Linked DNA regions of Homo sapiens: all the other regions are reported to be linked to region 1. The links are microRNA targets in miRTarBase. Many come from high-throughput screens and were not tested one by one. Region 1 holds a microRNA gene; each other region holds the end of a gene's coding sequence.

Region 1 (5,086 bases):
TAAGCAGTGGAGCCAAGATTGAAACTGGCACATGTTTGACTTCAGAGCCAGGACTCCCCCCACCACTTAACAAAGGCTGTCATATCCATCCCTCAAATCAGGAATGCACCCCACATCCCCCCCCGAGATGCTTGTTTCACTGAGACACAATCTCTCCCCGTTCCATCTCCAAACCAGCCCCAGAGGCTGAGGGCTGCCCAGGAGAGACTCAACTCCCCTCCTCTCCTGTTCTCCAGCTCTGCCCTTCCTGCCCAATCTGGGCTTCTCTCCCGCTGTGAAGGACAGATACCTGCTGAGTGACACCAATTTGCAGACTTCTGAAGTGTAAATGAGATTTCTAATAGGACTGGCTTCCCACTGGCTTCAGGCAGGGTTAGGAGTAAAGGGAAATTTAAGACTGGAAGTGCAGAAGAAGAGAGCCAGTTTGTAGGATAGGGAGCAGCAGAAGCAGAGGCAGCCAAAGTCTCTGGGTAGAAGTGAAGGGCTGACTTGGTTCAGAGAGGTCAAGTGCCTTGCCAGAGGTCACACAGCTAGCAACCGGAAGAGGTAGAATGAGCTCAGCTAATGGTTGCATTTTTAGCATTCCCTAAATGAGTACGATCCCCAACCCCCAACTTTAGTTTGTAATATGCTTTAGTCTCCTCTGCTGTATGGATGGAGGAGGGTGGGAATATACTTAGGAATAGGGAGGGCATTTGGATTTGTTGCTTGAAAATTAATCTCCACTGAAAGTGTCATCACTGTAACTTGGTGCTCACCTTAGGGCAAGGTACCCCCCAGGCAGAGGGATCCCAGGCAGAAAGGCTGGGAGGCCAGGCAAGGTGGCTGATGCCTATACTCCCAGCACTTTGGGAGACCGAGGTGGGCAGATCCCCTGACGTCACGAGTTCGAGACCAGCCTGACCAACATAGCAAACCCCTCTCTCTACCAAAAATACAAAAAATTAGCTGAGTTGGTGGCATTCACCTGTAATCCCAGCTAGTCGGGAGGCTGAGGCACAAGAATCACTTGAACCCAGGAGGTGGAGGTTGCAGTGAGTCAGGACTGTACCACTGCACTCCAGCCTGGGACAGAGTGAGACTCTGTCTCAAAAATAAATAAATAAATAAATAAATAAATAAATAAATAAATAAATAAAAGGCTGGGAAATGCTTTTTCTGATCACTAATTCTAATTGTATTCCTGCCACAGTGGGGGATGGTCCCCAAGCACTGGGCTTTTTTCCCTTGGCCACACCTCTGGATGTAGCAGCACAGAGGCAGGTACTGGGACCAAGAAATTCCATACACACAAGTCCACTCCCTCAGCTGTGGAGCAGGCACCAGACAAGCTCCGAGGTCAGGTGTGTCCCCCCTGCTGCCAGGTACACTGAACATCCGGGAACCTCGGTCTCCAGTGCATACCTCTCGGTGCCCGCATACACTGTGGCTGTCGGGCCACAGACAATGAGGCCCTGAGCCCCAGGATGTGGAGTCACAAGGTGCCTCCATTATAGGTGCCCCAAAGTGATTGTTGGGGGAATTAGTAATTAAGGAGGGTTTTTCTCCCCCTGCCCTTCAGGTAGTGGTATGGAAGCAGTCCACTGCTCCCTGAAAACAGAGACCCTGCCCCACTTCCCTGCTCACACCATAGTTTGTCCATGTTTCTGGAAGAGTCTGCCGATGGGTGTTTAGGGTGGTGACCTGAGATGTTTTCTAGGAAACACAAAAGATACAAAAAAGAACACGTGGAAGGATAGCCAAAAAGGGGGGCTGCCCCCATTTCCTGCACCCCGCTGCGATGGCTGGCACCATTAGGTAGACTGGGATTTGTTGTTGAGCGCAGTAAGACAACAACAAAATCACTAGTCTTCCAGATGGGGCCAGCCGGTCCACTCTGTATCCAGGCCAGTTCTGCAAGGCGTTCGAGGACCACCCCCCTCCCCTCGCCACCAGGTCAGCGGTCTGGATGCTCCTTCAGGCGAGGCGTTGTCTCCGCTCCTATTACTAAGTTCATCTTTGAACACCTCTCCTCACCTCAGAATTCCCTGGAGAAATTATTTTTTCTTACTTTTCCCTTTTTTCTGGAGTGTTCTACTTTCTATAATGGACACAGTTGTTTTGTTTTGTTTTGGTGAGACAGGGTCTTGCTCTGTCACCCAGGCTGTAGTGCAGTGGTGCAATCACAGCTCACTCCAGCTTCAACCTTCCAGACTCGAGTGTTCAAGTGATTCTTCCACCTCAGCCTCCCTAGTAGCTGAGACTACAGCTAATTTTTTTTTTTTTTTTTTTTTTTTTAGTAAAGACAAGGTCTCAGTATATTGCCCAGGCTGGTCTTGAACTCCTGGGCTCAAGTGATCCTCCTGCCTCAGCCTCTCAAAGTGCTGGGATTATAGACGTGAGCCACTGCACCCAATTTGAGCATATTTCCTTTACAAACAGGGGAATTATTTTTAAAGAGAAGCAGGCAAGTGGCTCATTTCTCTCTTTCCTTTACTAATCATAAAGCATTGAACCACCATGCAGAAGAGAAACTAGAGCTTGGAAATGGTGACCCCTCTCTACTGGTGCCTCCCCCTTCTGGAAGCCTATGGGCATGGCCCATGGTGAAAATTCTTCCTGTGGTTACTGAGCCCTGGAAGCTTCAGAATGAAGTCAGAGTGGTGGTGCTGGGGTAAGCAGAGCAGGAAGAGGAAAAGGGGAAATGGTTGTGGACAGGAGGCTGGTGGAATCCTGGCCCAGTCATCCCCTCCCTGCAGGCACAGCGCTGGGCTCCCTGGTTAATTTCCCTTGCAGTGTGGCACTGGTGGAGGAGAGGCAAAGCCCCTGCTGCCTGGGCCAGCCTCTAATTGCGCTGGCAGGACACATCCGCTCCTTAATTAGCAAAAGCCACAATATCCTGGCGGCTCAGAGAGCATGGCCCTAATTGTATTTCTGCAGCAACTGAAGGATAATTACCCTTCCCTATTGGTGCTGCTTTTAATTCTTTCTCTTTTTAATTGTGAGCACTTCCTCTTTAGCCCACCCTTCCATCCTTGGGTTTATTCTCTCTATCCAGAATGGGGGTGGGGGCTTGCCTGGTGATGGAGACGCTCAGGAGCAGGAGGAGTGGGGGGAGTCATGGAGAAGACTGGCAATACCTAGCTCTGAGTCCCAGCCCCTTCCAGCTGTCAGCCTGAGACAGGGCACATCTCTGCCATGGGTCTGAGAAAAACCAAGAAGTTCTTTTGTGGAAGATGTAAGGGAGAGGTGTTCCTCCCCCAGAGGCTCTTTATGACCCTCTTCAGTCTACCCCGCAGTGAGGTGCTGGCTCTGAAATTCCCAGCTGTAGAAAACTGAGACCTCCTTTCCCCATCCTTTAATCTATCAAGAAACAGAGATGGATGTGTGGTCTTTAATTTCTTTTACAAAAAAAAAAAAAAAATAGCCCCGTGCCTCTTTGCCACTGTTGAGAGGAGGGTTAGTCCTTCAACCTTGAATTGTTTTAGAGACAAGGACCTGAGGGTACCATTAGAGAACAATGCTAACTAAGGTAACCCCTTGGTTAATAGGAGAGCTTAGCACCCTAGGTATTTCTAGGAAAAACAGGCCTTTCTTAGGGACCTGGCAAATAAACTTTGAGAAGTAATAGACAAGCTAAAATGCACCACAAAGAGAGTTTGGAGAGAACCACAGCATCTCTCTGGATGTCAGCTTGCAGGACTGACTGATCTAGCTTACATGAGCAACCCTGGCCCTAAAGCCACCACCCAAACCACTGCCCTGCTAGAAGCTCACTATGAGAGCAGGGACTCTCACTCATTATTCTTCCAAGTGCCTCGCGCACAGCCTGGCCCGTGATAAATGAAACTGGTTGGCAAAGAAGCAGAGTTCAGAGACAGAGTAGGATTGTGAGGTGTGAACAGGGTAAATCCATTTTCATTGGCTTTTTCCTTACAGATCCAATGAAGATGAATTTGAACTGATTGTGGCCCTAGTTTTCAAAATTCTTTAATTCTGGGCTCTATCTGAATTGGGAGAAGATGCAAGCAATAAAAGAGGCTGCTGTAGTCTCAAAGAAATATATTTTGAAAAAATGACCTGCCCTTGAGCCCACCAACTTCCACTCCCCACTTCTAATTTCTTTCCTCTGAATTTAGAGCTGTTCCCTTAGCAACGCTTGTTTCCATGGTTTCCTCCATGACAATGATCCCAAACCCCTCCTCTCTTTTACCTCATGACAGTAATGGATGATGGGGATCCTCAATGTGGCCACTCCATGTTACCATGGTAACAATTAACTGAGCCTTAATTTATCTTTTGTGAAGAGGGCTAGGGAATATGAAGCTTTTGATTTGGAGGGGGAGGGTCCAGGTCTAGAGCTACCATTCTCATAAAGAAGAAGATAAGCTATTTGTCTTAATACTAGCCAGTAGGATTTAGTTCAAACATTTGTTCAGCCCTACTTTAAGCACAACTGAGTTTGAGGGAATCAAAGGGGTACAAGACATAGCTCCTAATATTGAAGGGCTAATAGTCTAGCACTAGGGCTCATGGTACCGCTGAACTCTGGCACAGATGGGGCCAATAAAGAATATGGCTCTTGATAGCACCGTGATGATCAGGCATCTATCCATTCCCAGTATCCCCTCCTGCCAAGAACCAAAAAAAGACTGACTGAAGTGGTCTGTACTCACATTAAGACTTCTTCCGGGCTGTTATCAGAGAGTTTCTGTCCTGAAAGGGAAAGAACTTTGACTTCCCCTCTTTTAGGGAAGTGGGGACCAATGCCAGCATCCCTGAGTAGGACTATTTGGTGCAGGAAAAAAGAGAAAAATAAACAGACCTGCCCATTGCCAGTGCAACAAAGGACTGGGATAATCTCCAGTTCCAGGATAACCATCACCTACCTGCAACAAGTCTTCCTGGGAAGCGATGAGTCAGCTCTTACATTGAATTAAAGAGTCATTGTCTCCATCCATTCAGCTTTTCTATTTGTCACTGAAAATTCAGGCCAAAAGCGCAGCTCTGAAGAATGAAAGTGGAAAAACAGACAAATAAAAATCAAAGTGAAGAGGACACCAAACACCAAACACAAAACACCAAAGCTGAGAGCTGAGTAGAGTGA
Region 2 (5,086 bases), not on the chromosome of region 1:
TAAGCAAGCAACATATAAGTAAAAGGATAGAATATCCATCCATCCTTCACTGATAACTTGCATGATGTAGCATCTTGGTAAGCCTTTATATGCATTGGAGGAGAAAAGTAAGGCATTTGGAAGTAAAATGTGAAGCCCTAAGGGGAGCAAAGCATATAGGAGAAGATATTGAAGAATCAGTGAGTTTGTCCTTCACAACCCAACTATGAGCTTCAGGAGAGCAGGAATAGTAATGGCTTTGTTTTCCACTGCATAACCAGCACCTCGCATAGAAAGTTGAAACATTAGAGGTATTCTTTATTTATTTATTTATTTATTTTATTTTATTTATTTATTTTTTTTTTTGAGACAGACTCTCGCTCTGTCGCCAGGCTGGAGTGCAGTGGCGCAATCTCGGCTCACTACAACCTCCGCCTCCAGGTTCAAGCAATTCTCCCGCCTCAACCTCTCGAGTAGCTGGGACTACAGGCAAGCACCACCACGCCTGGCTAATTTTTTTGTATTTTTAGTAGAGACGGGGTTTCACTATGTTGGCCAGGATGGTCTCGATCTCCTGATTTCGTGATCCACCTGCCTTGGCCTCCCAAAGTGCTGGGATAACAGGAACATTAGAGGTATTCTAATGTTTGTTGACAGAAAGTCAGAAGGGAGAGAGGGAGGAAAGGAGATGAAGAGGGAAAAGAGCAAAAGGAGATGGTGAGGGAAGGTGGCAGGAAGGGAAGAAGGGAGGGAGGAAATGAAGGGAGAAAAAGAGGGAGAAATTTGATTTTGAGCTGGGACATTGAGATAATGTCCCGAAGACAATGGCCAAGAGATTTCAGTCTGGAATGGAGAAAAGTTCTGGAAATAGTGACATGATATTGTGAATTTACTTAATGCCACTGAATTGTACACTTGAAAATACTTAAAATGACAACTTTTATGCTACATATATATTTTACCATGATAAAAAAAATTTTAATTAGATTTAAGTTGTTATCATCACTAGAGTATAAATGTTCTCTGTGTCCTCAAACTTTCTATAAAGTGTTAGAAACACAAATGCCTTGTGTAAGTGGATCTTAGTGAAAATCATGGAAAGGAAGTGTAAATATCTGAATCACGGTAGTCTAAACAGAAGCCAACCATAACATAGGAAGAAAATTCATGAAATGAACTAATTCTTCTCAAGTAGAAGCTCAGAGCCCAAGAAGGTAAGAAAAAAGTTAGACATCTTTCCCCAACCTGTCTACTCTCAGATTCCTCGGAGATGTTGGGAGCAGCCAAGACTTCCACCAAACAGCAAAAGGAGATAAGAGAGCTATTTTTGTTTCAATGTTAAATGACAGGATGGCTCAGCTGATACTTGGGTTACATGTGTATTATCTCAATTTACTCCTGAAAACAAAGGTGTAAGATGCTACCATTATCTCCGGTTCACACACAAATGAGCTAACTAAGGCTCAGAAACGTCGACAAACCTGCATCCAAGTGGCAGAACCAGGAAAAGTTACGCTCCTTCCCTGGAGCTATGAGATATTGGATACAAATTGCATTTCTAGGCTGTAAATGAAGAGAAAGAAATCATCACTGCCCTGTCTTTTAAAGGACTGTTCTCAAAAACAAACTTTGAAACTTTACAATTTATTATGTAATAAGGCAAAGAATGGAGAGAACTTCCAAAGTTCAAGTACAAATAGAATAGCTCTAATAGCAAAGAAGATGATTCCCAAAACAGAAATGAAGGCAAGAAAATAGCTTTGCAAGACAGCTACCACAGCCTTAAATGTTCACATTGTCACAATAAATAGCCCAGGCAAAAGCTTGCTCATATCTAACCATAAAGGCTATGTTCTTATATATTATTAATATAGAAATGTTATCTATTAGAGCCAAGTAACCATCTAAATAAAAAGATAAAGAAGGTACCTCTGTCTTTATATTTTTTATTGAAATCTAGAAAGCTGAAAGTTAAAAAAAATTAATCTGTCATCTTCTTAAAAAGTGGGAATTTTCCAAATTATATGTGAAGTGACTAAAATAAACAACAAATGAGAATCATGTAATAACAGTTTTGAAAGGGCAATGTAGAGTTCCCCTAGTGATTTCTATTTTAAAATAAATCAGAGCATTTCCAAAAGCCAGAGTGCTTATTTTAAAAAGAGAGGGCATGAAACTAATATAGACTAAAAACCATGTCTTGCTTTGTTGAGATATTACCATGAGCCATGCATACTAACATAATCCAATTAGGGGAATCCTAAGAGTAGAGCCATCAATGGGAAAAATTAAAAATATTGCATCTATATGGAAATAATCTATATATTTCACCTCTGAAAAACCATCAGAGAAATAAGAAATCCATTTTGCACTGACAACACAGAGTGAGATCAAATTCTCCACAAGACACCAGCATTTCTGTTATGAAAAAAGACACCCATTGTTGATGGCATGTGTACCTCATATGTCTCCATTTTGTGTAAAAATCATCTGCTTTTGTATCTCCTTGAGCAACTCTGAAAAGAAAATCAAGATGTTTTTCTGGACAGAACAAATGAGAAGGGCAAAAGCAAACCAGTTGGTAGCCAGTCTTCACTTCCTTAAAAAAAAAAAAAATGGCAAAAGGACTTAGCATGTCAACCTCCACCTATCCAGATGGTTTGATTTATTTAGTACACGAGTTCCAGGGAAGAACGAGCAAGAAGTATGACTAAGTATTAATATAAGCCAACAGGTTTTTAAGCTTCTTTTTAAGTCTCTCCTGCCCAGATTTACTAAAACACAGAGCTTTAATTTTCTCAGGGCTCTGACTCGAACAGTCAATTGGTATCCCTCGTTGGCAGATTCTACTAATCCACTACCATGAGTGAGGTGGGTATAAAGCTAGAGCCACTCTTTTGATGTGATTAATTTCAGGGCCTGAAAAGTGCCTTCTCTTTCTTTCTCCTTCTCCTTCCATCCCGATTGATCATGGAGGAATCTTTTCCAAAGGTTTCTACTGTGATCCTCTAACTAAATAAGACTCAGCACTTCTCAGTGATCCCACTGCTCCCTTCCCTGCACATCTTTCTGAAATACCTGGTTTTCTGGGTAACTTTTCTTTTTCCTAAATGTAAGTTATTCCATGTGCCCCTAGAAATGGAAGGAGACGTAGAAGACAAGTTACTCCTAGAAATCTCATAGCCCTGGCCTGTAATCCCAGCACTTTAGGAGGCCGAGGCGGCAGATCACCTGAGCTCAGGAGTTCAAAACCAGCCTGGCCAACGTGGTGAAACCTGTCTCTACTAAAACTACAAAAATTAGCCGGGCGTAGTGGTGAACGTCTGTAATCCCAGCTACTCTGGAGGCTGAGGCAGGAGAATCACTTGAACCCAGTAGGCAGAGTTTACAGTGAGCCAAGATCGTGCCACTGCACTCCAGCCTGGGCGACAGAGTGAGACTCCATCTCAAAAAAAAGAAAAAAAAGAAAAAGAAAAAGAAAGAAAGAAAAGAAAAGAAAAATCATAGCCCTTACTTCACCGCACAGCTGAAGACTCTCTCTGAACAAGTAAAATATAAGATAATCCTTGGTTTGGTCACAGGGCATAATGATTAAGCCCATATTCTAGGCTCAGGAAAAAAAAAATCAGACCCTGATCAGCAAAGACTCTTGCAAACAAGGAGCTCTGTTGAGAAAACTAAATACCACCTGTTCTCACTAATAAGTAGGAGCTAAACATTAGGTACACGTGGACATAAAGATAAAAACAATAGACACTGGCAACTGGAAGAGCGGGGAGTGAGGAAGAGGAAAAGGGTTGGAAAACTACCTATTGGGTACTATGTTCAATACCTGACAGATGGGTTCAATCATACCCCAAACCTCAGCATCACACAGTATACCCCTGTAGCAAACCTGCACATGTACCCCGCAAAAACTAAATTAAAAGTTGAAATGTTTAAAAAAGAATTCTGCTGAGACATACATTTGCAATGCCAACTAATGCAGGTTTATTGAGAAATACATGGTGAGACAAGCTCTGTTTTTGTGAGACACAAAAGCAGAGGCCAGGAGATACAGCAGCAAGGTGAAAACATGTCAAAAGCATCAGAGACTGGGGTGTGGATGGTAAAGCTTCTGGACACATCCAGAGGCATACACAGCACCAGTGAGCAACCCTTAAAACAAGCTTAGGGCTGGCCAGAAAAATTTTAGAGTGCTAAAGACAGCGTGTGCATGGATAGTAGCCAGCAGTCAGGCGGTCACAAGAAGGGTCAGCTATGAAGAGCTATTCAGGGACAAGCAGCATGCTGGAAGATCCTGGAAACAGCTGGCAGGTCGTGGAGTCTTGATTCGCTCACTGGCTCCTACACACTTAGCAGGTTCTTCGGCAGCTGGACACGCAGGACTGCTGATACGTCCTGGAGACCCCACAGGCTGGCTGGCAGACAGTAGAGACTCCTCCCACTGGTTGGCAGACAGTAGAGATGCCGCCCACTGGTTGGCAGACACTGGAGATGCCTCCCAGGGGCTGACATCCACTAGAGACAAAGGTGAGCGGCCGGCTGTAGGTAGTTGAGCAGGGGTTGGAAATACAGGTAGTTTGTCGAGAGCAAGTCACCTGGCAAGGGTTGGAGACACATGAAGTTCGCCGGTAACAGGTTGGCTGGCAAGCAGTGGGCTCACAGCAGGTCTCTTGACAGTGGTCCAGGAGCCAAGAGCCAGTCTGGAAGGAACTGGGCAAACAGATGCCGCCCAGGCAGTCAGCATCAGTGGTGGAAGTCGTGGTAACTTGGGCCACTGGAACAATGCAGCGTCCTCCAATGGGCCTGGAAGAGCAATTTCTTGTGGAGCAGTTGAAGGACATGATGTCAGACAGAGGGCTGCAGGTAGCTTGCTGAAGTTACCTCCTGAGTTGTGAATGTCACTCCAGACTCCTGAGCTTTTATATATCCTTGCTGGTGGGTGGGGCTCTCTCCCTGGTCTCCGTGGCTTCTTTGGCTCAGACCAGTTTGCCTTAGAACATCTTGTGAATCTACACATTAATTGTCTCTTAAGAAGCCTTCACCCTCATAAAGAAAGTTTAGTAGTTTGGTAACTAAATCACAAGTCTTCTGTACTGTACTT
Region 3 (5,086 bases), not on the chromosome of region 1:
TAGGGTTGGTTGTAAACTATTTTGTGCATTCCTTTAATACCTCATACCTCCCTGTGTTCTAGGCGCTGCTTGCAGATTCTGGCTGCAGGACTGTTCCTGCCAGGTTCAGTGGGTATCACTGACCCCTGTGAGAGTGGCAACTTTAGAGTACACACAGTCATGACCCTAGAACAGCAGGTATTGGGACAGATATGAACTGAGTTGTTTTGCCCCACTCTTTTGAATACTGCTGCTCAGCAGGCAAAGCGGAATATGGTCTTTACGGGTCAGGAATTTGGGGATTCTGAAAGACTTTGGTCCTGAGATTTAAAAAGCTGTCTTAATCTCTGTTTTCAGAAGGGTATTACTCAAATAAGGTCCTTTGATTTTCCTTGCTTACTCTCACTTTGCTTTCCTTCAGGACATGGTCTGCTATACAGCTCAGACTCTCGTCCGAATCCTCTCACATGGTGGCTTTAGGAAGATCCTTGGCCAGGAGGGTGATGCCAGCTGTGAGTGACCACTGTGGGTCAGGGGTTTTGTATTGTAATCTGGTACAGAGAAGCTGTACACTACTTAAATGTCTTTAATATTTCCACAGTGTAAGTAATGACTTTTATGCTGGGCTACTCGTCTAAATCACCTTTTTCTCTTTCCTAGATCTTGCTTCTGAAATATCTACCTGGGATGGAGTGATAGTAACACCTTCAGAAAAGGCTTATGAGAAGCCACCAGAGAAGAAGGAAGGAGAGGAAGAAGAGGAGAATACAGAAGAACCACCTCAAGGAGAGGAAGAAGAAAGCATGGAAACTCAGGAGTGACATTCCCTTCACTCCTTTTCCTACCCAAGGGGGAAGACTGGAGCCTAAGCTGCCTGCTACTGGGCTTTACATGGTGACAGACATTTCCGTGGGATAGGGAAGATAGCAGGAAGAAAAGTAAACTCCATAGAAGTGTCATTCCACTGGGTTTTGATATTGGCTTAGCTGCCAGTCTCCCATTTGTGACCTATGCCATCCATCTATAATGGAGGATACCAACATTTCTTCCTAATATTCTATAATCTCCAACTCCTGAAAACCCCTCTCTCAACTAATACTTTGCTGTTGAAATGTTGTGAAATGTTAAGTGTCTGGAAATTTTTTTTTCTAAGAAAAACTATTAAAGTACTTCCTAGTAGGGCTCTTGGTCTTTCTGGTTGGTGTTTTTTGTTTGTTTGTTTTTTTGCATGTGGCAACCTTTTTTGCTTTTGGCTTTGTGTACTCTTTTGTTGAAAATGATAATTGAGTCATTTAATTATAAATACTCAGATCACAATTTGAAGCTGTCTTTGAATTAAAGGACAAACTCCTGGAACCTTTCCATATACCAGAGTAAACTAGAATATCATTTTAAGTATTTATTGAATAAAATGATTCTATCAACACTGCTACTGTATTCAAGCCAGTGCAATAAAAAAGTGGGTGGACAGAGGTCATTCACTTTGACTTTGCCTGCCCCCTCCAAATCCCCAGTGTAAACAGGAAAATGAGAAGTCACAGGTAGAGGACATGCTGTCCAGGCCCATGTAACCAGGCATGTAACATACAAAGGAAGCCCCTCTGGTTAACTAGTCCTGAAGAAGGTAAGCCTCACGTATGCAGCTTAAAAAAAAAAGTAGAGGCCTCAGCTCATTTGTGAAAGGAAGCAAGAGCCATAATTAATGTAAGTCCTTTGGGAACCTCATTCTGGCTGTGTGTAGGTTTCCTGGGGCCCCTACATAAATGGGTAAGACGAAGTGCTTCAAACAAACTGTACGGCTCCCTTTTTAATGTCTGAAGGTCTATGGGGACTGTCTCCTAGGATCTTTGCATGTCTGTTGAAACAAGGCAGCTGGGGAACAGTACTTGTGCTACTGAGTCCATAGGCTCATCTGTTATTTGCCTGGGGAGCCAGGGGGGTAAATTCCCGAATCCAGCATTGCTCTCCTGCGGGCTGTTTCCTTGGCAACACTGTGGTTTAGCCGTCTCAGTCGTTCCTACAAGACAAGGAAGGTTTGGAATCTTAACCACTGTGAAAGGCTTGAGAGTGTAAGTGAACTAGGTGCTGAAAAATACCGGGCGTGATCTACCTCAAAGTCAGTCTTCAAAAGTATATATAAGAATGTAGGCCGGGCATGGTGGCTCACACTTGTAATCCCAGCACTTTGGGAGGCTGAGGCGGGTGGATTACCTGAGGTCAGGAGTTCAAGACCAGCCTGACCAACATGGTAAAACCCGTCTCTACTAAAAAATACAAAAAAATTAGCTGGGCATGGTGGCGGGTGCTTGTAATCTGAGGCAGGAGAATCGCTTGAAACCGGGAGGTGGAGGTTGCAATGAAATGAGATCGTGCCACTGCACTCTAGCCTGGGTGACAGAGGGAGAACTCCATCTCAAAAAAAAAAAAAAATGTAGGCCAGGCATGGTGCTCATGCCTATCCCAGCACCATTTAGGAGGAAGTGGCAGGAAGATCACTTGAGCCCAGTTTGAGAACAGCCTGGGCACCATAGTGATAGCCTGTCTTTTTTTTTTTTTTTTTTTTTTCCCGAGACGGAGTTTCGCTCTTGTTGCCCAGGCTGAAGTGCAATGGTGCGATCTCAGCTCACCGCAACCTCCGTCCCCCGGGCTCAAGTGATTCTTCTGTCTCAGCCTCCCAAGTAGCTGGGATTACAGGCATGCGCTACCACGCCCAGCTAATTTTGTATTTTTAGTAGAGACGGGGTTTCTCTATGTTGGTCAGGCTGGTCTCCAACTCCCAACCTCAGGTGACCTGTCCACCTCGGCCTCCCAAACTGCTGGGATTACAGGCAAGAGCCACCGCGCCCAGCCGATCCTGTCTTTTTATTTAAAAAAAAAAAAAAAAAGGCCAGGCAGGCCGGGTGCAGTGGCTCACGCCTGTAATCCCAGCGTTTTGGGAGGCCCAGGCAGGTGGATCACTCGCATGCAGGAGTTTGGGACCAGCCTGGGTAACATGGTGAAACCCTGTCTCTAGAAAAAATACAAAAATTAGCTGGACATGGTGGTGCATGCCTGTAGTCCCAGCTACTTGGGAGGCTGAGGTGGATGGATCGCTTGAGCCTGGGAGGTAGAGGCTGCAGTGAGCCTTTATCATGCCACTGCACTCCATCCTGGGTGATAGACCTTGTATCATAAAAATAAATAGCCAGGTGTGGTGGTTCACTCCTGTAGTCTCAGCACTTCGGGTGGCCAAGGTGGGAAGCTCACTTGAGCCCAGGAGTTCCAGACCAGCCTGGGCAACATGGAGAAACCCTACTTCTACAAAAAAATACAAAAATTAGCTGGGCGTTGTGCACGCTTGTAGTCCTAGTTACTCGGGAGGCGGAGGCAGAATTGCTTGAGCCCAGGGGGCGGAGGTTGCAGCGAGCTGAGATTGAGCCACCGCACTCCAGCCTGGGTGACAGAGGGAGACTGTCACACACACACACACAAGAATGTAAATGGCAGCAACTGAATAGTGAGAATGAGACGAATTTTCCTAGGTATTTTTCAAGTACTGGGAGAAGTGAATTTCCCTTTCCCCAAAGAATTTTAAAATTACAGTGGCTTTCACTGTGTTGAGGACTTACAAAAAAGGGCAAAGAATCACTGTTGGTAAGATATTCTTTTACCTGAGCATTCTGTAGAATGTTGTTAACCAAGACAACGCGTCGCCGGGCATTAAGTAGCTTCTTAACATAGGGGTCAAGATCCAGGGCCACCTTCTGATCCTCATTTATGCGGCACAGTTCTGGGGATGGAAGTAAGGTGCAGCTAAGATCTAACGGCTTATCTCTTGTTCTGAGGGAAAGCAGGCTGGTAATGGGATGGAAAACACTTGCACCCAAACGGGCCACAGCCATTAGAGATTTAAGACATCCCTGAAAGGAGGAGTCCTTTGGCAGCCCTGATGCCCTGGAAGCAAGTGACAGAAACTCAGCCCAGGGGTTGGCAAAAACCTAAGGTCCTGAAAGTGGGCTGAAGAATTCCGGGTACACAGGGATGCTCACTCACCTGTGGCTAGGTTGTCAATTTGTTCCCGGAGCTCTACCTGGCTCTCTCTGCAAAGAGGTACAAGGCCTACAAGGTCAGGCAGTTACCGGAGCTCAGGAAACGAACTCCCCTACGTATTTACCAAGTACTGAGAGAAGCCGGCCTCCGCTGAACCCTCCACCTGCGGCCTTCCCGCCTGTCCTCCCCGCCTCGAATCAGTTTCCTAAATTTATGCCCACTCCCAGCCAGAACACTTTCTTGGCCCCGCCCCTACAAAGCCAGAGAGACAGGCCCCGCCCCCAACTTCCCTCCCGGGCACCTGACGGCGTGTACGTGAGAGTCGAGCTGCTGCACAGCGGGTCGCAGGAACTCCAGCAGCCCTTCGGCGAAAAGGTCGCGGCCTGTGGGCCCCGCCACCGGGGTCCCTGCCCCCGATACAGCGGCGGAACCAGCCCCCGCCATCACGAATTGTCCTGAAGCCCGAAACCTGCCGCGAGGGCCGCCGGGAACCGGAGCCGCGCCGCACTGCCCCGCCCCGTGAGGGGGCGCCCGGGAAATGCTGTCTCCACCAAGACACCGGGGTTTCTGGGAAATGGAGTCTAGCGCGAACCGGGCGGGGAGGAGGGCCAGGCCGTAGGAGTAGAGGCCTTGTGGCTGGTCTTGAAAATCTCCAAAGTTCAGGTTGTAGAAAGGAACCAGTTTTTGGAGTGGATACTTTTCGTTTTCTTTAAAGGTGAAAATAAACGCGAATACCTGCAGTTGTCCATAGCCTTCCCATGTTAACTTTATGAGATAGCCGGGCATGGTGGCGGGCACCCAGCTACTTGGGAGACTGAGGCAGGAGAACCGCTTGAACCCGGGAGGCGGAGATTGCAGTGAGCCGAGATCGCGCCACTGCACTCCAGTCTGGGCAACAGAGAGACTCCGCCTCAAAAAAAAAAAAAAAAAAAAAAAAAGCAACCCAAACCAAACAAAAACAAACCAAAAACAAAAACACTTTATGAGAAAGCCACATTATATTCATAGTATCGTTTTCTATTTCTAAAGAGTTTATTGTGGTTGGTTGTTTTTAAGACAAGGTCTCTCTCTGTCGCCT
Region 4 (5,000 bases), not on the chromosome of region 1:
CTTTGCCTGCCCACCCTACCTTGTGCCAGCCCTTCAGAGGCCACTTCCTCTTCTTGAGCAGGTGACCTTCCTGCCTCTCAGGCATGACACCCTCTGTCCCCAGCCTGACCCGAGGCTCCTCCACCACCTCCCACAGCTCAGAGGCCTGCAGTCCAGGACAGAGGGAGGGGAGCACTGGTGAGACGTCCGCCTTGGCCCCTCCCTGTCTGGTTCCAGCTTGGCCCACCCACCACCGCTTTCCCACTCTCTGACCTGCTGAGCACTGCTGGGCTTTGAGGACTGAGCGCTCTCAGGCAGGAAGGGCGGGTCCCTCTCTTGGAAGTCCATGGAGAAGGGAGAGGCCACTCCCTGCTGGGGATGTAGAGCAGGGAGCAGGGTGGAAGGGGAAGGATGTCACCTGCTCCTGACGGGGTCCTTGAAGCAAGAGAAAGACCCCCTTAACGCAAACTCTGCTATCACCTTCCCCACCTCCAGCCCCTCCCACACCCTCTGAGATAAGGGCTCCCCAACATACCCTCTGCTCACCTGCCAAGCCTCTCCCAAGTCTGCCCCTCTGTCCCGACCCCACCCATTTTCACCTGATATGGACACTGCCCTGAGAGTGAACTAGCACACAGCAGACGGGCAGGTGCCCAGGGAAAACCACAAGACATATGCCCAGCCCCGCCTTGGGCACATACTCTGGGGCTCCAAGAAACATTCAGTGCTTTCTTTAGAGGCTTCCCTGGGAGTGCTCAGAGGTGAAGCAAGGGAGTGACAGAAGAGGCTCCAAGAAGAGACAGAGGGGTTCAGAGACTGGACAAGCGAGACCTCCTCAATCCAGCTGCCTCTGCCTTCAGGACCCCTCCACCCTGCCACCGTAGCTCAGAGACTTCTCTGCCATGATCTTGCAGAAAACTCCCCAGCCTCCCACCAATTAATCTCCATATTATCTAGTGCTTGGAGAAACTGAGGCCTGAGATAGCCCCCATTTTCCCATGTCTCCTCCCACCAAACATGCCCCTAGGATGCCCTTTTTGGACCCTCAGTACCCCCTAAAGCCTCACCATCCCCTGTCTACCCTCACAGTCCTTGGGGCTCTGAGAAGTGCCACCCACCCAGAGAGGGCAGGACATTGGGCTAAAGGAGATACTTCATGAGAGAAGAGGGGGCCCAGGACATGCCCAGGTCTGCACAGGTCCTGCAGCAGTGCCCACAGGCACCCTTGGCACTGGCCCTGGCCATCCTGGCTCCACCGGGAGATCAATAATGCATGAGGCTCTGCATGTGTGAGACGGGGGAGGGGACTGGAGGGGCGAGGCTGGTTTGAGGTGGGGGAAGCAGCCCAGATCTTCTAATGGAGCTAGCAAGCACCTGAGGAACTGAGGCCCAGAGGGGACAGGGATGTGGCAGGAACGGGTGCCCAGGAGGTTGGGGCAGAGGGACCCTTGCTGCAAGAGGCTGACCTGGGAGGAAACTCCTGCATTCAGCCATTGAAAGTTCTCAAACTCTTCCGGTGTTCAGGTATCTCTGGGCCCTTCTCCCGGCCCTGTGGGGATCCTGGCCCCTCACTGCTTGTGGGTAGAGGGGGAGGCTCTATCGGTAGGCAGGTGAAGGGTCTAGGTGAGCCAGGTGGGTGCCCCCTCTCCACCTCTATTCAGGAGCAGACCCACCAGCTTCAGGTGGGAGGAAGCTCTTCTCAGGAATGTCAGCTGCTGCCACGCAGCCCCCTTACCCCAGGGTCCATGGACGCCAGTACTCCTTGGCCCTTGCGCCGCTCTGCCTCTGAGTCACCGTCTCCGAGTCACCGGCTCCCTCCTCACCGCGCTGAGCAGTGGCAGCAGCTGCTGCAGGAACCAGGAAGGAAGGAGATGTCAGAGCCTCCCCTCTAGCCGGATCTCCCCACCTCCCTCTCCCCTGTCCCCTCCTCCCGCCAAGCTCCGGGCAGCCGCTCAGCTCTGCCCCCCTGCTCCCCGGAGGACTCAGGGCTGAGCAGACTGCCCTAGCATCGATGTGGCTTGGGAGTGGGGGCACAGTCCCTGCTGGGCATGGTTCCAGATAGATCAGAGGACTGGGGAACTGTTGGCTGTACGCCAGTGGTGATAAAGGATTTATTCAGACTAGCATGGCAGTGACCCTGTTAGTACCCAAGGCCAATTCCTAATTAACCCCCGCCCCCCGCCTCTCATTTTACATCTGAAAATAGACTGCAAAATTTGGAGCCAGCAAAAGTATCAGGTTGATGGTGGAGGGACAGATGCCCCCTCTGGGACCATAAGAGAGTGCCAAGAGCACAGTCAGCAGGGGCAGTCAAGCCAGGAAAGGGACAGCCAGCAGTCCCCACACTGAGGCCCTTCACTGGGGTGATGCCCCACTAGGTCAGGCCCCATGGAGATCTGAAAGTGCTTGTGTGTATGAAGACACCCCACAGCCTGCAGTCTCTGATCAGGAGCAGGCCTGGGGCAGTCACAGCTGCCGTTAAAAGGGCTGCAATGCTGGTCCCCTCCCTTCCCTTTACCCTTCTGCTGGAGTACTGTGCCCAGCTGCTCAATTCTAATGAAAAATCGGCTCTTAACAAAGATCTAAAATTCATTCAAATGAATGTGGCATAGACCTACAGTTTCAAGCGCAGCTAAGTTTTCTGGAAAGAAGTAGGTGGGGCCTCAGGTGAAGGATGTGATTCAAGTTTCTTCTCTGACCCCAAAAGTGACATGGGCCACTTATCCCTTCCACTTCATCCTCACCGAGCTTGGTTTACGTTTCAGGGTCTCACATATCTCTCGGGAACACCCACTGTCTTGCCTTTATTCAGAGCCTCAGTGCTGCTCCAGCCACCCCAGGAGGAGGGTGTTGTTAGCACCTGGCAGGGTTCTGGGAGGGACAGGAGCACTGGGCAGCACTGACCAGACAAGCTCTGGCATCCAGGAGCCTCAAGGGCCTTTTAAGCCACTTCCCAGTGATTGAACATCCCTGGGCATACAGCACAGGATGAGGCACTGGGGGAAGCTGGTCCTGGCCCAGGCCACAAAAGAGCTGCTGCAGGTCATCCCTGCCAGACAGTGCCTGTCCAAGACTAAGGAAGCGGTGGCATTGCTTCAAGTCCGAGAAGGAATGTTGAACAGCCACCTTCCCCGGGTCACCCCTGCATCCACCCAGAATGTGCTCCAGTCAAGGATGATGGTGGACTCTGAGTTAAGCATCCCGTCTCCTTTATTAGGAATTTCTGGTTCATGAAGACTTGCATGAGGCCTCCTACCCTAGAGCTCTCAGAATTCCCCATTAATAGAGAATCCTAGTTTTCCCGCAGGCCTTTTGTCCAGAACCACCAGAGACACGTTAGCTAGTGGGTACAGCTGTCAGCTGCCTTTAATAGGGCAAGCATGCGCGGGATGCCATTTGTGGGAACAGGTATAGGGGAAGAGGATTTTCCTAGGAAGGGAAGCAAGAGTGAGGAAAGTCAGATGACAGAGAAGCCCCTGAGAGTAAGTTTAGAGGGAGGACAACCGTGTAAACCACAAAATAAAGGAAGTAGAATATATTTCATTTTATTATAAAGCAGTGCTCCCAAACTTTTCACAGCGTACACCTCGAGGGTGGAGAACTAACATCCAAGCACACCTGGATGGTGGATGGGACCCACTTCTGGGTAACCTGATGAGGAAGCTCTAGTGAAGAAATTCAGGACGCGGTCTTCAGAGCAGAGGGCTTGGTTCAAGTCCCTGTTCTGCCACTTACTAACTGCATGACCTTGAGCAAGCCACTTAATTTCTCTGCTCCTTCTCTGTGAAATGGGTACAATGTGGTCAGCAGTAAAGGAACTAATACATGTACAGCACTCAGCACAAAGCCTGGCACACAGCAGGCTCTCACCAGGTGCCATTCTCAGCACAACTGCTTGGTTGAGCTACTGTGGCAGTGGCAGGTTGTGCCCCAAGGGGGTGGGCTCAGGAGCCCGTGCAGCAAGAGGCAGTGACCAAGGAGGCAGGGGACAATAGCCCTATCTTTTCAGGATCTCTGCCTTGGACCTGGAGAATGGAGAGACTTTGCTCCTATCACGTCCCAAGTTGGGAAAACTAAGGACGAAGCCGGTGACTGACATCTGAAATGGAATCCTCTGCATCTCCAAGTGGCCCTATACCTGACAATATCATTACTAGTGAAAACCAAGTGACAAACACACTCCCCGACCCCAAGTTCTTCCACATGTCCCATTGAGGAGAGCACAGCCAATAACGCAGAGTGTATTTATGCGCAGGGCTGGCTAAACAGGCTGGCTACGAGTCCGGAACAGTGTCAGGATCTGGCTTCCCATTGGCCGACATGACAGAATCCTTCTCGCGTTGCTCTCTGATGTACTGGTCCAACAGGGTGGTCAGCTGGAGGGGCTGGTGCTGGAGCAGGGAGTGGGTCTGGGCTGTGAGGCAGGTGAGGCCTCCTACAAGCTCCCCCTGCACCAGGGGCAGGCTGGGGAGCTTGGAGTAGTTGATAAAGCCCTGCCTGCTGAGGATGGTGTCATCAATGCAGCCACCTGGAAGAACACAGGGTCAGTTAGGCTCCTTGCAGATTGCCTTTCTTCTCTGAAAACAATATTCTGACCCTAGTAACTTGCTCTCCATTGCCCTTCTCAAAATCCTGCCTTCCCCAGGACCTGGGTTCCACTGTGCCCCACACCACACCCACTCTGCTTGGGATCGATCCCTACTTCTTCACTCTTCCCTCAGAAAACTCTTAATATATCCACCTGGCCCTGACCCCTATTAAGTCAGTGTTTCCTAAACTTCCTTGTAAATAAGAATCAGGCAGCCAGGTGTGGTGGCTCATGCCTGTAATCCCAGCACTTTGGGAGGCTGAGGCAGGCAGATCACCTGAGGTCAGGAGTTCAAGACCAGCCTGGCCAACATGGAGAAACCCCGTCTCTACTAAAAATACAAAAATTAGCCAGGCATGGTGGCGAGCGCCTGTAATCCAAGCCACTCGGGAGGCTGAGGCAGGAGAATCGTTTGAACCCGGGAGGTAGAGGT
Region 5 (5,086 bases), not on the chromosome of region 1:
CAGCTTCTACCACAGCCAGACGAGGACAGCCGGCTGCTGCCCCTGCTGGTCTGCCTGCGGTTCCTGTTCGTGCCCCTCTTCATGCTGTGCCACGTGCCCCAGAGGTCCCGGCTGCCCATCCTCTTCCCACAGGATGCCTACTTCATCACCTTCATGCTGCTCTTTGCCGTTTCTAATGGCTACCTGGTGTCCCTCACCATGTGCCTGGCGCCCAGGTCCGGGGCAATGGGGTGGGGTGGGGGGCTGGGAGTAGGGAGGTGGGTTCAGTCTTTGGGAAGGGACCGCCTGCAATGGAGGGACGGCCCATCCTGCTTCTGGCCAGCCCAACCCTAGCTGTCTGCAGGCCTTGCTGGCGCCCCCTACTGGGCCAAGCCTTAACTGCAGGGGAGAGAACTGGGCTAGGGAGGTACCCGCCCAACCAAGTAGCCCAGGCACTGGTTCTGGGGCCGCCTCAATGTGCCTCAGTTTCCCCATCTGTAAAAAAAAATGGGTTGAACTGTCATCCCTCAGGGCCCATCTAACTGTAAAATTCTCAGTTGAAGGAGAGCTAAGGTTTTGACCAAAAACAAGGTCATGGGCTATTTCCTCAAGGGGCAATGGAGTGGAGAATCCAGAGAGAATGAAGCTGGCAGGGCAGACAGGCTGAGAGCACTGTGGAAAGGGCAGGCTGTGGAATCTGGAATCCCATCATGTTAGACTCAGAGGCCCTGAGAGACATCCTTATCCAGCAGCCTCATTTACAGACCAGGAAACTGAGGCCCGGAAAGAAGGGGCCAGTTATGGTGACAGAGGGGTTGGGTCAGAGCCCAGACTGGATGGGCAGAGGGCAGTGGAGCTGGGTCCAGATTTAGACCCAGCATTTTCTAAGAGCTCCTGTTCCCGGGTGTTCTAGGCAGGTGCTGCCACACGAGAGGGAGGTGGCCGGCGCCCTCATGACCTTCTTCCTGGCCCTGGGACTTTCCTGTGGAGCCTCCCTCTCCTTCCTCTTCAAGGCGCTGCTCTGAAGTGGCCCCTCCAGGCTCTTTGGCAGCCTCTTCTCGACGTCTCCTTCCGGAGCTGAGATCCAGCCCAGGGCGAATGGCGAGCTTGGCTCAGGCCTCTGCGGGGTGGAGGCCCCTGGGCCTGAGGCTGCCAGCAGCGGGCAGGAGCTGCTCTTCATCCACTTGGAGTGCTGTGGGGAAGAAATCACCACCGGTCATTCTAACCCTCACCCAGGAATGGGGGTGACTCGCACAAGACCTCATGGAAAGGGTGATGACTAGGGAAAAGAGGGTGCAGGGCACGGCTGCTCCCCACCACCAGGTCTGCATTTGTTCATCATCATCAGGAGCAGAGGTGACCAGAGGGTTCAGAGTGGGAGGCGGGGCCAGCCCAGGCCAGGAGCGCCTCATCTTCCCAGGCCTCAGCCACCCAGGGTAAAAGGTGCCAGGGAAGTTGTGGGCACCTGAGAGGAGGAACAGATGTGGAGGACCTGAGGGTGCTCAAAGGGCCAGGCTCAGCCTCAAGCAGTGTTTTCATTGCCAACACTTACTGTACCCACTCCGCAGAGCCCAGCTGGGCCTGGGCCCCAGGGCCACAGCTAGCCTGCATGTGTGTACTGCACTTTACAGTTTGCAAAGCTCTTCCATACCCACTCTCTCACCGAAGCCTAATTGAGGCTCTTGGAAGGAGTCAGGCAAGGATTGTGCTTCCCCCATTATACAGGTGACAAAACTGAGTCCTGGGGAAAGTGACTGGTCCGTGGTAGAGCCGGGACCCAATCCCCTCTCTCTCCTCCCTGTTGGTGCTGTTCTTCCTGCCCAACACCTGTTTCTCTTTTCCTCAAGGGGTTTGGGGCAGGAGCCTGGGCACTTACTCCCCGTTTTTGCTGTTTCTCCTTCTGACCCTGCTCTTGGGTCTAATAACCCCATTTATTTGTATGATGCGTTCACCAAGTCTTTATTTCCGAAGTGCTGTTGGCTCTATTGGCCTCAGTGAACTGGGTGGGGTCGGAAAGATTGTACCCCCTTGACAGGTGGGATGACTGAGGCCCTGAGAGGGGTAGGGATTGGTGGGCATCTCTGTGCTGGGTCCTCTGGACCACATGATAGCTGGGGGGTACTGACCTGCAAGGAATCCTGAGCTCCTGGGCAGAGCACCTAGTTGGATGGACAACTATTGCTCTCCCACTCCATGAGCCCCTGGGCTCTCACCAGCATCCTCTGCCTCCCCAGGATAGCTCCTCCTTGGAAATCTGGCCTTAGAGAGGCAGTCAGTGTGGGCAGGGCTTTGGCGACCCCACCAATTCTACACACGGATGGAGGAAAGGCCTGCTTCACCACACACCTATACTACCCTGCCCGTCCCAGAGAAAAGCAAGGGTTTTCTGCCCACCTGCCTTTGTGAACATTCACTGAGCACCTATTAGATATTAGGTGCTCAGCCAGCACAGGGTACCTGCTCAGAAGCCAGGGGCTTTTTGGCATCAAGGAGGAAGACAGGCAAGATATGACCTTGGTTGCTGAAATAAGCCACAGGGCAGACCCCAAGGAAGGATTCATTCCTTTGAGCACTGTTCACAGACAGCTGCCCCGAGCCAGGCCCTGCCTGGTCTGGAGACTTTGAAACAAAGGAGACACAGTCCCCGCTCCCAAGGCCACAGGAAGCCAAATATAACTTGTGATACGTCTTGTGAGGGCCCTGCAGAAGCATGTCGAGGGAGCCACTGATTCCACCTGAGAAGTCAGGGCAGCCATTCCAGAGGAGGTATTTCCCCAGCTGGGCCCTGAGGGATGAATATGAGTTTGCTAGTCTGAGGTGGAGGAGGAGCAGAAGCAGAGAAGCCACAGAGGAGTTGATCCCAGCAGTCCAGCGGGGAGGTGATGGGGCCTAGACAGTGGCTTAGAGAGGACGACTGATACAGGAGATATGAGGGAGACTGCCTCTATGGAGGCCAGCTAACCTCGTGGATAAGTGCATGCATGCTGAGCCAGAGTCCTAGGTCAAATCCAGGCCCTTTTCTTTATGACCTGCCTGAGCTAGAGTCCTGGAGTGAGGTTGGAACTAAAGTACCACCTCTGATGATATTAGGGAAACGGTTGTTGGAGTCTTGGAGTCTCTTGCAAGACCAATAGGCCTACTTGTGCTCTCTGGGACTGTTGGAGGCAGGACCCCAACACTTGCTGAGTCTCCTTCTCCTCTACCTTCAGAGGAGAGTACAACTGTTGTCCGTTGTACCTAAAAGCTCCCTAGAAGCCAGGCGCGGTGGCTCACATAATCCCAGCACTTTGGGAGGCTGAGGCAGGTGGATCACCTGAGGTCGGGAGTTTGAGACCAGCCTGACCAACATGGAGAAACCCCATCTCTACTAAAAATACAAAATTAGCCGGGCGTAGTGGCGCATGCCTGTAATCCCAGTACTTGGGAGACTGAGGCAGGAGAATCGCTTGAATCCGGGAGGCGGAGGTTGCAGTGAGCCGAGATCGTGCCACTGCATTCCAGCCTGGGCAATAGGAGCGAAATTCTGCCTCAAAGAAAAAAAAAAAAAAAGCTCCCTAGACCTGCCAGATCCACCTGGGACCAGGAAGGCAGACACCCACCTGCCCACCTCCCAGGCCAGACAGTCCCAGGAAACCCACTGGGGCCACCCGTCACCCACAGCAAGCCCAGGTTCGGGCTGGGCAGTGGAGGATGGGGCCCAAAAAGAGGACACTTACCCCTCAGGATCATGATGTCACAACCTGGGATTCCGTCTTCCCATCCTCCTTCCCAGTAGACCCAGCACAACTTCATCAGCTCAGGGTGCAGGGGCTTTGATGTTGGAAACAAATTCTTGGACTGGTTGGCTACACCTGCCTGCCCCTCGCCTGATGCCTAGTCCCCAGCTACTGCTGCCTGCCCACCCTGTTACAGCTCTGCCGACAGGCCCGGATTCCCACAGAAGCAGCCAGTTTCCATCAGCAAACACTCGCACTGCACAGGGCACTGAGCTGGGCTCAGTGGAGACAGACATCCTTACCCTCAAGTTGCTGACCCTTTTATGGAAGAGGAGACTGGTAGTTAGAATTATACTACGTGAGGCCAGGCATGGTGGCTCACACCTGTAATCCCAGCACCTTGAGAGGCCAAGGTGGGCGGATCACTTGAGGTCAGGAGTTTGAGACCAGCCTGGCCAACATGGTGAAACCTGGTCTATACTAAAAAAATACAGAAATCAGCCGGGAATGGTGGCAGGCGCCTGTAATCCCAGCTACCTGGGAGGCTGAGGCAGGAGAATCACTGGAACCCGGAAGGTGGAGGCTGCAGTCAGCCGAGATTGCGCCACTGCACTCCAGCCTGGGTGACAGAGCAAGATCATCTCAAAAAAAAAAAAAAAAAAAGAATTCTACTACATGAAAAGCATTTGACATTTGTGATCTGCTTTTCCACCTGCCTCAACATGCCACATGTTGTCAGAGTTTGGCCCCTTTTGAGTGGCCCCAGAGGCCCCCCTACCTAACCCTCACGCCCTGCTTTGTATGGGAATGGCATCTCTAGCCAGGGCTGACTGGACCAGGGCTGGGGTCTGAGCAATGGCAGCCACTCACTGACTGGCCAGCAGCCTATGAGGTGGCCCGGTCCAGCTTCCCTGATGAGAGGAACCAATCAGATCATCTCTCTTGGGAGAATGAAGCCACAACATGAGTGGGGGTTGTCTCGAGGTTACTGGCACATTAGAAGGAATAGGTCATAGGCAGGGTCAAGGTCACAGGCAGGGTCAACAACATAATAGAATGGGGAATTGCTTTGTGGTCACTAGAGTCATCATGATATCCTAGATGGAGCCAGGTGGCATCCTTGTTCTTCTTGCTCTCTTTCTTTCTTCTCAAGGTTTCTTGAACAAACTACTGTTGACTGAGGTCACCTGGCTAGACTCCCCCTTATTTATTTATTTTTTTTGAGATAAGAGTCTTGCTCCATCACCCAGGCTTGAGTGCAGAGGTGCGATCTCGGCTCACTGCCACCTCCGCCTCCTGGGTTCAAGTTATTCCTCAGCCTCCTGAGTAACTGGGATTACAGATACGTGCCATGATGCCCGGCTAATTTTTTTGTATTTTTAGTAGAGATG
Region 6 (5,086 bases), not on the chromosome of region 1:
CTGAGACAATTTGTGTCTTAAGAATTTCAAATGCCTGCAAGTCCATGCCTGCATTGTGGCAGCATGTGCACTGCTTCCACTGAATGTCCAGACATCAATGAATAAAAATGAAGTAGTGGATATAATAGCAGTAGTTGTTTTTATGCACATACTACATGCGTCGTGCTGTGTGCTTTACACACATTATCTCATTTAATTGACAACATTTTGTAGATTAAAAAAAAAAGACTAAGCTTAGAGGATAAATGACCTGCCCAGTCACACAATTCTCAAACCAGATGCTTCAACTCCATGATCTCCTCCAGTCTCTATGTTTAGGTGAACATTGGGTGTGATCAGAGAAATTCGGCAGTTAAATAGGAGGTAACATAAAAAGAGGGTTGCTTTTATCTCATTTCCATAGCCAAAAAACCTGGTCAAGTTTAGAAGCTGCTGTTCTTTTACCTACATTTAGTCCCTATTCGTTTTGCTCTCAACCTTTACGTGATTGTAGCGTGACTTCCCACTTTATGAAAGAGTACTTGAAGTCTGTATGCAAATTATTCAAGTTTTTTGATGGTTGTGGGGAGGATGGAAGTGCGTGCGTGTGTGAGGTGATGGAGTATCTAAAATTTCTTCCTATTATTTTTCTCAGAACTTCTGCTTGTAACGGAAGTTTCTCAACATGAAATGTCATCAATTTGGCCTCATTCAGGAAGTTGCAGGGCACTTGACTGTAACCTCAGTAAATTGTACGTTTTCTGAAATCCTGATAATCTTTAGCTGCCTATCATTTTGAAATTTTAAAAGTTATTTTATTTCTGAACTAACTCCCTTGGCAATTTAATTGATTAAAAGAGAAAAGATTATAATGAAATACTTCAGAATGTAGATATATTCATCTGTACATTACAAGGGGAACTCAGAATTTAAATGATCTGATTTTTGTATTCATCAAAAAATTACTATGAGGATTTTATTTATTTATCTGGAATAAAATTCCTCTAACCATGCATATTGTCACAACATACTTGAATTTACAAAGATACGGAATCTCTGGGATCAGAATAACGGTATATTCTGATCTGTGTATATATGAAAGACTCAGTGGGTTCCAATGAGAGAAGCTATGCTATGATTCTCATGCGGTTATATAGTTAAAAAGACCTTTGTTGGCATAGTCTTGGACAGCATACATGTTCCAACTTTAAATATTGCTGAGTGAATAAATAAACATATGAGACTGGGAAATGTCGTCAGGGTTCAACCTAGAAACACAAAGCCAGTATCATGATCTTGTAATTATTATAATGTTAATCCTTTAGCCATCTTAAAAGGCTTGGACTCATGTCTCTCACTCAGCCAAAAGCAGCAGAAGGTCCAAGTTCCTCAGCTACCTCCCAACCTTGGATGAGCCGTTTCTTATCTTTCCGCTGCTCTTTATTCAGCTTTCCATGGCCAAGAGAAAAACCTGTCTTCCTTCTGTTGATGTTCCCTGCCCCACGTTGAGGGAGCTGAGGCGAGAGCTGCAGAGGATCCGTAAGGAGCTGTGGGTAAGGTGAGGACAGCAGCCCTCCCTTAATGTGGAGTATACGTCCGCTATTCTTGTGTCCTTTTTAGTGCGGAACTCCGTGATGAGGCCTTCCTCCTGACCACTTGAGCCTCATGGTGTCTCCTCTTTTTAGGAATCCAATCTCTCTTCCTGTGCTTCAATCTCCTCAAGGGCTCTGCAGCACTTCCCCTCAAAAGCATTTCCCTAAATCCTTGACTGGGTACCAGACCTTCATTTTTAAGTGATTGAAGTTGTGGCTGAGTATGCGTCATGGGCGATTGCCACCGTTTTAAAGTCAAGTAGTTTGTTAGTTGCTCCCCAACTTACAATTTCCTGGCATCTCCATAAAGAAGCTATCCTGTCTTGATCTCCCTGAGGCAGCAGGTGATTAAAGTTTTAAAATCATGGTTAGTGACTGCTGTGTTTAAGGAGGCCCCAGAATAATCGATTTGGAGTGGTAGCTGTAGCAAGAGTGGGGTCATGATGGAGGCAGCACCTTGGAAAACTGAAATGAAACACCATTTCATGCTGTGAAGGGGGAAGAATAGAGGTAGACATGTGCTTTAGCCTCACCTGGGCACTGCATATGCGGTTAAATCTCAGGGGTCTGGAAAAATATGCCGGACGTTAGCAGTGTAATGTTGTCCTCCAGCATTTGAAATAACACTTTGTGTTTCCTGTTTTTTCCTAAGGTATTACGTTTTATTGGTTAAAAAAAAAATAGGTCACTTTGGAAGGTACTTACCTACAGTACCTATATAAATTGAATGGATCAATTTAAATAGGAAGATGGAATCTGTTATATAGGAATAATCATCATATTCAATGCCCTCTAGCAAATATTTCCTAAGTGCCCACTGTGTGCCAGGTATTATGTTAGGCACCAGAGATTAAAAAGGCTAAACAAAATAATCTCTGTCACAAGGAGGTCACAGTCTTACGGAAGGGCAATTGTCATACAAATATATAAAGCATAATATGACAAGTGCTATGAACCACAATTTACAAGTTGCTATGGAAACACAAAGAAGAGAGCACCAAAGGGAATCATGGAAGGCTTCACAGAGTAAGTGACCTTTAGGATGGAGGAAAGAGGGAGACTTCCTAATGTGGAAAATAGCAGGAGACACTCCAGGAAAATAAATAGCATATGGAAAGTCACAAAGGGAAGAAAATTGCAAGTATATTGTTATGGCTGGAGTGTAGATTGAGAGGTGTGTGTGTATGGTGGTGGTGGTGAGGGGGTAGTTACAATTCATAAGGTAGGTAAAAAGCAATTGGGGAAGACCTTATGCAGCCTGGAAGGAAGTTTGGATATTATACTAAAGACAATGAGAAGCCCTCCAAAACTTTCAAGCAGAAAAGTACCTGATTTGATTCATGGATTAGAAAGATTTATCTGGAGGCTGTGTGGAGGATGGATGAGAAGGTAGGGGGTCAGTTGGAAAGCTACTGCCATTTTCCGTGCATGAGATCATGAGGATCCAAAGCAAGACAACAACCATGGAAATGGATAGAAGGCCATGAATATGAAAGCATTTGTAGAGGTAGGATCCATAGGGCTTGATTACTTATTGAATTTGTATGAGGAGGATATATGTGAGATGAAGCAAGAAGTGATTTTCTGCTTTGATGACTGGCTGGGTGATAGTAGCAGTAAAGAGGAGTTGGCAATAAAAAAGCAGAAACAAATTTGTAGAGAAAATCGATGGTTTGGTTATGTTGAATTGAAGTTTCCTGAGGGTATCAAGTGAGTCAGATAAACATCACTGGGGTTCAGGGGACAGATGAGTTTGAGGAGGTTGAGATTATTGCTATGGGATGCACTTATATTACAAAAAGTGAGGGGTGTCTGGGAGGAGATATTTTCTCTAAAGTCCAATATTAAAACCCTTAAGTAACATTACTCTGGAAAATGCAATATGCAAATAGTTCTTTTTATTATTAACATTAGGGTATGTCAAATTTTAAAATATTTACACTTAAAGACAAAACATTTCCACAATTATTACAATTGGTTTCACTAAATCAGAAGTGACTACACATTATCTCTACTTTTATACCAGAAAACAAAATGAAGAAATCAACAAAATATAATTACTAAAACTCCACTGTGGATCAGGATAAAATGTGTCCAATATTAACTCACACTTTCCCAATAAGTATAAAAATGAATATAACATTGCTTGGACAACTTGTTTCAACAGCGAATCCTCTATTACTATTTGTTCAATAACATATATAAATTCAAAACTGGCAGGTATGAAAAAAGGTTACTTTGTTTTTTGCAGATACTGTACTTGTAAAATAAAGCCAAATAAAGCATATGTCACACATACCAAAGTCTTACATTTTGCCTTTCTAATACAAGCAAGTGAAATATTAACACATAGCATTTAAAATAATAAATATATATTTTATTGACAGTAATTTGGAATGTTAGAGATACAAAATTTTATGTACAATTATTCAGATTAAAACATTTAAACTTTAGGTTTTATTTACAAATATTTATCTTATCTTCCTCTCCTATTTGACGTTTTAGCTCAAGAAGAGTTAAAATGGAATGCATCTGTAGATATATAGTTGGGAATGCGTGTTCAGTCACTTGGCTCTGTGATAATAATCTTATGTACCATGTCAGACAGATTTTCAGACTCCAGATCCTCTTTGCCATTATCTGAATTTCCTGATGAGATATAGCAACCAGAGTCCCTTGGGCAGTCATCTAACTGTGACTTATTTAAGGAGATGTCTGAGCTCAAGGATAGGGGCTCAGGTTCATTTTCTTGCTCTTGAATAACTGTAAATGGAAAAAAAGGGCAGGAGTTAGGTAAAGCAACACAAAATCTTATTCATGTACTCATTCACTTTCAAGTATTATCCTATTTTAACTGTTCTAACCATGACTTCATTACAATGGAAAGTTCTGCAAGTAAAAGGTATCTTTGTTTATTACAAAAGAGATATTTGCACCCAAATATTCAAGCTACTGTTTTATTAGAAGCCAAAATTTGCCCTTCATTGTTCATTTGCAGTTTCATGGAATTCATGTGAACTTCCCGCATCAGCAAAGATCAATATGGACTCTCATTTTACATTAATAATAAGTTGCCAGAGAAAGCAGATTGTATCCACAGTGTGACTGATGCCTTGTCCAAATACTCCTTAAAGTATCATTAGAAAAAGGCATTTATAGTTTAAATGCACAATCCAAGTCAATAGTGATCTTTGTGAACAATTTTAGATTCATGATAATCTAGATTAATTAATAAATTATCACTATAAGTAAGAATGTACAGTAGGACTTCAATTATTTGGAAGTTAACTAATAAAACTTTAAATATCCAGAATTTTCCTATGTTTGCATGTATCACAAAATAGGCATAAGAAACCAGGTTGCTTTTAGAAAGTAAAACACCAAAATTTCCACTGAATCTACTTTATGAATATTTAGTCTTCCATATCTTTGTCTGTAGTCCTGAAGAATAATCATTTATTTTCAGATTGATAATTCTGCATTCTTAAAGCAGTGTTCTATATTCAACAGGCATT

Evidence for each region. The annotated mature microRNA hsa-miR-7-5p reads UGGAAGACUAGUGAUUUUGUUGUU and lies in region 1 at 1,832-1,855, opposite strand. An mRNA with a match to its seed (bases 2 to 7 or 8) in the 3' UTR can be bound and repressed. Matches are read on the target gene's strand: a 7mer-m8 pairs with bases 2 to 8, a 7mer-A1 pairs with bases 2 to 7 and ends in A, and an 8mer does both.
Region 2: the mRNA of KRTAP11-1 is a reported target of hsa-miR-7-5p. Seed matches in the 3' UTR shown: 7mer-A1 at 4,271-4,277.
Region 3: the mRNA of ILF2 is a reported target of hsa-miR-7-5p. The part of its 3' UTR that is shown has no 7-base or 8-base seed match.
Region 4: the mRNA of MRPL10 is a reported target of hsa-miR-7-5p. The part of its 3' UTR that is shown has no 7-base or 8-base seed match.
Region 5: miRTarBase lists SLC29A2 as a target of hsa-miR-7-5p. Seed matches in the 3' UTR shown: 7mer-A1 at 1,621-1,627.
Region 6: the mRNA of SAMSN1 is a reported target of hsa-miR-7-5p. The part of its 3' UTR that is shown has no 7-base or 8-base seed match.

What each region holds. Positions count from the first base shown.
Region 1 is chr15:88,608,625-88,613,710 of GRCh38, reverse strand. It overlaps MIR7-2 (microRNA 7-2), which reads right to left and starts at 1,886; the gene lies at 1,777-1,886. MIR3529 (microRNA 3529) reads left to right here and starts at 1,787; the gene lies at 1,787-1,864. It also overlaps a transcript of AEN not described here. RefSeq lists an enhancer at 1-677.
Region 2 is chr21:30,876,699-30,881,784 of GRCh38, forward strand. KRTAP11-1 (keratin associated protein 11-1) reads right to left here and starts at 4,882. Exons shown (of 1, transcript NM_175858.3): 1 at 3,946-4,882. The coding sequence starts at 4,826. The coding sequence ends at 4,335.
Region 3 is chr1:153,658,110-153,663,195 of GRCh38, reverse strand. It overlaps ILF2 (interleukin enhancer binding factor 2), which reads left to right. Exons shown (of 14, transcript NM_004515.4): 12 at 63-177; 13 at 401-491; 14 at 640-1,408. The coding sequence ends at 800. SNAPIN (SNAP associated protein) reads right to left here and starts at 4,493. Exons shown (of 4, transcript NM_012437.6): 1 at 4,310-4,493; 2 at 4,012-4,058; 3 at 3,630-3,748; 4 at 1,344-1,996. The coding sequence starts at 4,452. The coding sequence ends at 1,895. RefSeq lists an enhancer at 4,648-4,727.
Region 4 is chr17:47,819,952-47,824,951 of GRCh38, forward strand. It overlaps MRPL10 (mitochondrial ribosomal protein L10), which reads right to left. Exons shown (of 5, transcript NM_145255.4): 5 at 3,321-4,507. The coding sequence ends at 4,254. OSBPL7 (oxysterol binding protein like 7) reads right to left here and starts at 1,843. Exons shown (of 23, transcript NM_145798.3): 1 at 1,715-1,843; 2 at 253-414; 3 at 20-145. The coding sequence starts at 327. RefSeq lists a silencer at 1,806-2,021 and an enhancer at 2,132-2,301.
Region 5 is chr11:66,359,354-66,364,439 of GRCh38, reverse strand. SLC29A2 (solute carrier family 29 member 2) reads left to right here. Exons shown (of 12, transcript NM_001532.3): 11 at 16-215; 12 at 893-1,919. The coding sequence ends at 1,004. B4GAT1-DT (B4GAT1 divergent transcript) reads right to left here. Exons shown (of 2, transcript NR_135761.1): 2 at 676-1,171. Among named protein-coding and RNA genes, the nearest start is that of SLC29A2, 9.9 kb to the left of the region's middle.
Region 6 is chr21:14,481,781-14,486,866 of GRCh38, forward strand. It overlaps SAMSN1 (SAM domain, SH3 domain and nuclear localization signals 1), which reads right to left. Exons shown (of 8, transcript NM_022136.5): 8 at 3,448-4,334. The coding sequence ends at 4,132. The region is part of intron 1 of LOC124905053 (a long non-coding RNA gene); the gene reads left to right. Among named protein-coding and RNA genes, the nearest start is that of SAMSN1, 62 kb to the right of the region's middle.